Homo sapiens: one gene and its partner. The protein of the gene in region 2 interacts with the protein of the main gene of each other region in a biochemical or structural test. Each region holds a gene or a part of one and is shown on either strand. Other genes may lie near its edges.

What was found. The genes of interacting proteins can lie anywhere in the genome.
Region 1: the proteins of MYO18A (region 2) and PTPN3 interact in a test that uses a peptide from one of them, tested with the Homo sapiens proteins (one large-scale study listed by IntAct).

The regions. Positions count from the first base shown.
Region 1 is NC_000009.12:109,379,808-109,383,307, reverse strand, and holds part of PTPN3 (tyrosine-protein phosphatase non-receptor type 3), read left to right. Parts: intron 1-860; coding exon 861-1,006; intron 1,007-1,520; coding exon 1,521-1,656; intron 1,657-3,500.
Region 2 is NC_000017.11:29,075,899-29,079,398, forward strand, and holds part of MYO18A (unconventional myosin-XVIIIa), read right to left. Parts: intron 1-3,500.

The DNA of each region.
Region 1 (3,500 bases), on a different chromosome or scaffold from region 2:
AGTAAGTGCGCAAGACTGCCCATCAAAGAGCCAGGGCCCAGAGTTCACAGTGGCCCTAGTCACAACAGGCACGAGGTGCAAACAGCCCAGTGTCCATCGATGGAGGAATGGATAAACAGCACGTGGTCTGTCCATACAATGGAATATGATTCAGCCTTTAAAAGGAAGGAGATTCTGACCCCTGCTACAACACTGGGGAACCTTGAGCATATTATCCTAAGTGAAATAAGCCAGACATAGAAAGACACATACTGTAGGATTCAACTTCTGTGAAGTGCCTAGAGTCGTCCAATTCATAGAGACAGAAAGTAGAACGGTGGTTGCCAAGGGCTTGGGGAAGGAGGAGAAAGGACATCTATGGACATTTTGCCATATGGCATAATGGGTGCAGGGTTTATGTTTGCGGGATATTTTAAAGTTCTGGAAATAGGTAGTGCTGATGGCTCTACAACATTGCGAGTATTCTCAATGCCGCTGAACTGTACATTTAAATGTGGTTACAGTGGTAAGCCTCATGTTAGTATATTTTGCCACAGTTGAAAAAAAAAAAAAAAAACAGTCAGCATGTGTGGCCTCTAATGGCAAGTACCATAGCAGCAAATGGAGGAGATCACTGGGCAGAGGAGATCACTGGGCAGAAGTGATCAAGGAAGGCAGCCCTGCAGGACAGGCCCACAGCTGAGCCTGAGAGGGGATGGGGATCTTTGGGGAAGGAGGGGAGGAATTGCTAGGGGCCACAGCAGGGCTGTGCGCAGAGGGAGAAAGCATCAGGAGACAGGGCCACCCTGTGTCTGGGTTGGGGCTGGGTCCTCATGCTCACCACCTGGATGGGCTCACCAAGGCCACTGCATCTCCCACAGACCGGGGAAGAACACACAGTGACACATCTCCAGTACGTCGCATGGCCTGACCACGGTGTGCCCGATGACTCCTCCGACTTTCTGGAATTTGTAAACTATGTGAGGTCTCTGAGAGTGGACAGCGAGCCCGTCCTAGTTCACTGCAGGTATGGCGCTTGCTGTTTTGTTAGGTTTGGAATCCTTTCCCTGTCGGAAAAGGCCTGGAGACAATTGGCAGGCGCCAGACCCACCCTACATCCCACAAAGTCGTGTGCCCTTACAAACCTCTGTTGACTGTGGTTCTTCACCATTTCAAAAGTTTTTTGGAATTTTATGAAATCCTAACTTTGTGAATGTAGCACAGAACTGAAGAAGAAAATCCCCTCACACACCCTTTCTCCTGTCCTTCTGTCAGCTGACCTTCGTCATAGGTGTGAGTGAGAAAGGGAATAGGTTTGGCACTTCACAGTGGCCCTCTTTCCACTGCCTGCTAGCCCCCAGTCTCAGATGTGTGAGGACAGGCTGTCTCAGCCTGTTTGAGAGCACGCCGTGAGTGTGCGTTTTGTCTTCTCGAAGGCCAAGGGAGGAAAGCCCCTTTGGAGTCAGCGGGGAACTGCTCGCTGGGCCATGCAGAAAGGCTACTCAGACAAATCCCAAGTCTGTCTTCTCTCCCCTCTCCAGTGCTGGAATAGGTCGAACCGGTGTGTTGGTCACTATGGAAACAGCCATGTGCCTAACTGAGAGGAACCTGCCCATTTACCCACTGGATATTGTCCGAAAAATGCGAGACCAGCGCGCCATGATGGTGCAGACATCAGTGAGTAGAAATCCAGTAATTACGGTGGCTGGCACTTTCTGAGCACTTACACCAGGCAGGCCTGAGAGAAGGGCTTTGTGAGTCAACAGACTGCAGCTCAGGGGGACTGAATCACTTGCCCAAGGTCACAGAGCTTGTCAGTGGCTACAGCCCACACCCATCTCACCTCTGAGCTCTGCTGCCTCTGTGGTTTATTTCCTGCCAGCCCGTCTGTCAGGGAGCAGCCCTGGTTGCATTCTGTATCGTTGAACAATCATTTGTCCATTATCCTCCCCCGCACCGACCCACCTAGACCTGGGTACTCCTTTTGGCTCAGTGGATGTTGCATATGACCCTACTTTGAGCTCTGTTCCACCCGTGTGGTGCCTGAGTACCTGCTGTGTCCTCCACGGGCAGGCCAGAGCTCAAAGTAGGGTCATGTGCAACATCCTCTTGTCCTCAAGAGGAACTCTAGGGGATAACTCTTGGGGATTTCCCCTGGAACTGCAAGCGGGGCAGTGAAGCGGTGTGGAAAGAGCATGATTAAGGTCCCACCACAAATGGAACAACCTTTGCATAAGTCCTGAACCTCTCTCCAAGCTTCAGCTTCCCTGTGCAAAATGGGGACCATCCCACATTCATTCATTCATTCATTTGACAAAGAAGGGTGCAGAGACAGGCTTGTATCTAGTAGGAGAACTGGATTAGTCTATGCTAAGTGTCAGCAGCGGTGAGGGAAGTTCAGGGCTGTCTGAGAACATGGTGGAAGAGTATCTAAAGCAGGATTTGGAAAGTCTAGGAAGGCTTCCTGGAGAAGTGTCTTCTCTGGTAAAAACCCCCAGGGTACATGAGGAGTTAGCAAAGAAAGGAGCAGGAACTATATGTTCCAACCAGCTCTGTCTCTTCACAGGCTGTGGACAAAGTTTATAAGATTTCCCTAATAAATTTTTAAGCTTTGGTAGTTTTATATTAGTTTGTACCCAGAAAATCTTGTTAAGAGAAAAAAAATCAGCTTATGTTATTAGGGCCATTCTCTGCCCTGTTTTTTGGTATGGAAGACCTCGTGGCTGGTTAAAAAGAAAAAAGTCCATCATCCTGGTAGATTTTCCCAGCTGGAAGCTGGGCACGGTGGCTCACGCCTATAATCCCAGCACTTCAGCAGGCTAAGGAAGGTGGATCACTTGAGATCAGTAGTTCAAGACCAGCCTGGCTAACATAGTGAAACCCCGTCTCTAATGAAAATACAAAAATTAGCCAGGCATGGTGGCATGTGCCTATAGTCCCAGCTACTTGGGAGGCTGAGGCAGGAGAATCGCTTGAACCCAGGAGGTGGAGGTTGCAGTGAGCCAAGATTACGCCACTGCACTCCAGCCTGAGTGACAGAACAGGACTCTGTCTTGAAAACTAGATAGATAGATAGATAGATAGATAGATAGATAGATAGATAGATAGATAGATTTTCCTAGCTGGAGAAGCTCAGTCTAAATGCTTTTATCCCCCCTGTATACTTTGCTACAATATGTTTCTTAGGTATTTGCTAAGATAAATAACTGTATCCTGCAGAGCATCTTTCAGTGGCTCTGCTTTGTAAAACACAATCCAGACTCCTTACCCCAACACAAGGTGCCCACAACCAGGTCCCAGCCCACCTGTGCAGCCCCTCCTCCTCCACATGCCTAGGTGTTGAGTCCAGGAGCAGGCTCCCTGACCCCGTTTCTCAAAATGGGCTCTTACTGAGGCTTCCACACTTCCACTTACAAGAAGGGCTGTCCCGCAGGGACTTTTGCTCCTTCCCACCTCCCCCAGACCGCCAGTTTCTCCCTCTGTCATGTCTCCATGACACTTTGCCCACCCCTCTCTGGGAG
Region 2 (3,500 bases):
GCCTCCAGATCCTAGAGTTCCAACTTGGGCAAGCAGGAGTTCCATGTTCCCTGCTGCCTATAATTCTGACTTAAGCTGAAAAGGGACCTTTGTTTACTAGCCCTTTTAAAGTTCTATCCCCAAACCAAAATAGGAGGAGTCAGCGTTCTGCGGCAAGAACCACCTTCTTAGCTTTTCCCAAGGTGGCAGTGAGAGATGCAGAGGGCAAGATTTGGTCACTGAGTACTCCTATGTGTAAGACACGGCCTAGGCATGTGAGATAGGCTATCTTACTCTTCACAATAACCCTATGAAATATTACGAGGAAGCCAGTCCAAAGAGATGAAAGGATCTTCCCCAAGGCCACACAGCCAGTATGTAAACTTGAATCTGGGACTCTTAGACCTCAAAGACTTTGGACGACTTCACCCCGCCACTCGATTGGTTGACCTGAGATTAAAAAAAAAAAAAAAAAAAAAGGACCAAACCTGAATTCTCCTGCTGGCTTGGGCAAGTGCCCAGGGGTTATGTAAAGAAAGGTCGGTCTCTATCCCTGGGGGAAAGGAAGAGGCTGATAGAATACATGTTCAATTATGCAAAATGGTTCAGGAATGGGGCAGTCTGGTTAATAGTTATCGTATTTCTCATGAATGAATTACCATTTTTAAAGGAATCAGGATAGCACAAAACACATTTAACACAAACTAGACTGAACATAAATGAGTCTTACTTTGATAGGCCAAAGGCACTTAGGGACTCTGGGGGGGTTTCTAGGACAAAATTATAAAGCTCACTGATGACTATGCAATATAGAAAAAAATTGGGGTTATTTTAGCTTTGGGGTTGTTTGAATTCTAAATTAGTGGGAGCCTGGTTTGGTTCTCATTCTTTACATAGAATTTCTGGGCACTCAGGGCTAGGATCTGCCGTTAGGCTAAGGAGTGCCTGGCTTTGTGGAAAGACAGTGGGGTTACTTTGTGAGCAGAGCGGGGCGAGGCAGATGCCAGGGCTGGAATCCAGATGCAAATGAGGTGCTGCTGGCGAGCTCCAAGGCACTGTAAATTGCTGAATCAGGGCCCCTCTGGTCCTTTCCATTGCCTCACCTCTTTTTAAGGTGGGGGCTCCAGTCCCCAAGCCCACATTCCTGTACCTGCTAGGCAGACACCTGGATAAATGACAGCCGTGTTTCCATACTGTTTCATCAAGACGCTGGGCAGTGGCAGGAGCTGCCGGGGAGGTGGTAAACTCCATGTCTCTCTCTGCCTTGGGCTGCGGACCCACGAGATTGCCCTTGCCCGTAGCTTGGGTGATCTTTAGCCATTCTTAGTGGCTTCCACTGCTCCAGCCATCAGGGAGTCAACAGCAGGCCGCTGCCCTCCTCTCCAGGGCAAGAGTCAGAGCTGGCAATTTGAACATTTTAACCAAATTGTTTAAAAAAGCCTTCCTCCTCACAAGCCAGCGTCTCCTGCTCAGCACTGTCACAAACAATTTGGTACATAAGCTAATTCCTGCCAGGCAAGCCCAGGGCGGCAGCTCCCCTCCCCTTGACTTTGCTATGGAAGCTGCGTTCCTGTTGCAAATTCTTGCTGGTCCTCATCACCAGATGGGAAGCTAAGTGACTGCTCCATCCCATGCCCCCACCCCAAAGCCAGTTGATGCTGAGCACCACTGAGGTCCTCCCTCCCCTGGCCTTCTCCCTCTGGCTCCGTGTTGGTTGGCTAGGTTCTGGCTTGATGGCCACTCTACCAACAGTGAATCCAATCCTCCTTGGAGCGGGTGGTATATATGGCGTCAGGACTACTCCAGCTTTCCTGGTGGAAAAGAGGAACTGCGCTGGTGGCTGGTGGAAGAAACAGGCTTTTGGTCTTTTTGTTATTGCTGGTTGTGGGGTCAAGGGTGATGGTGGGCTGAGGGCATTGGGGTCTGAAATCTGCCAGTTGCCAGTCAGTGTGGGATGGCCCAGCTTTAGGCCCATGTCCATCTGGGGGTAGAGGCGCAGTGTGCAACAAGGCCTGGCCCTCTTTGCTTTCCAAACCCCTCTCCCAGGTCCATCAGCTGACTTCCTGCCCTAGGGGTGTGGGGCACTTAGCAGGGCTGCTAAGAGGAAGGCTGAGATGCCTGATCAAATATTGACTCATATATATATATATTTTTTGAGATGGAGTCTCGCTCTGTAGCCCAGGCTGGAGTGCAGTGGTGCGATCTCGGTTCATTGCAACCTCCGAGCCTCCCGGGTTCAAGCGATTCTCCTGCCTCTGCCTCCCAAGTAGCTGGGACTATAGGCATGCGCCACCACGCCCAGCTAATTTTTGTATTTTTAGTAGAGACGGGGTTTCACCATCTTGGCCAGGCTGGTCTCAACTCCTAACCTCAGGTGATCTGTCTGCCTCAGCCTCCCAAAGTGCTGGGATTACAGGTGTGAATAACCATGCTCGGCTGACTCTTGTCTTACTATGGAGCCAACACTGGTTCCTTGGTACAACAGAGATGCTTCCTGTTCCTCCCAGAGCACCCAGTAACCATCTGCTGCATGGGGGAAGTGACAGAGCAGGGCTGAGCCATTCCACTTGCTCCATTCCTTAAAAGGTCTTACATCAGTCCGTTTGGTATAATCCATTCAAAGTCAGCCTAGGTGTCCAGCCGCTCCACAGCACAAGCATGCGACAGGTGTGTTAGTTCATGCATCTGGGAGACAAATGTCTGTGCCCCAGGGGCTGCACTCGGGGGACATACCTCCTGGGAAGCAGCAAGCTTGCCCTGGGAGGGCAGCATGCCAAAAACAGCTTCACATAAGCAGGGTGATCTAAAATGTCACCACGCACCAGAGAAACTGGCAACAATGGGATTCCAATGAGTCAGGCTCTGCCCTTCTTCCATGGTGGGGGTGTGGGCATAAAGGGCCTAACTGCTAGATCTCCCTCCCCACAGGGAGAAGAGCTGGGGGAGGCAGGAGAGCCAGGGGGAGGCTGTCACTCAGCAGTTGCTAATTTCTATTCATTAGAACTTTACAAGATGAGTAGAACCAAGGTGACGCCCATGTGTGGGCCTTTGGTGGGAGGGCTGGGGAGGGAGTCAGGCATCTCCTGGGTCTGCTGTAGGGTGTGGCGCTGTGTGGGCTGTAGCCCTGGGAGCCTTGTACTCCTAGGCTTGAGATCTATGCCAGAGAGGAAGGTAGCTTTGTGGGGGCAGGGTAGGGGAGGGAGAGCTAAGCAAAAGGCCCAATAATAGCTTAGGGCCACTGATGTGCACCAACCACAGCTGGGGTATAGCTTGGGACCTTTCCTGGCCCCAGCCTGTTGGGGCCATGAATGAAAGCTCCTGAATGGGTGCTGCTGGGCACACACAGTAAACATGTTGCCCATGTGCTCTGCACTGGCTGCCTGGAGGAGTGGGTAAGGGCAAGAGTGCTGGAGTTGGGCAGACCCCATTCAGACCCTGGCAACAACCCTTCCCAGCTGTGCGTGACCACATGGCAAGTGACTTAACCTCTCCAAGCCTCAGCTTCATCTTCTATGAAACAG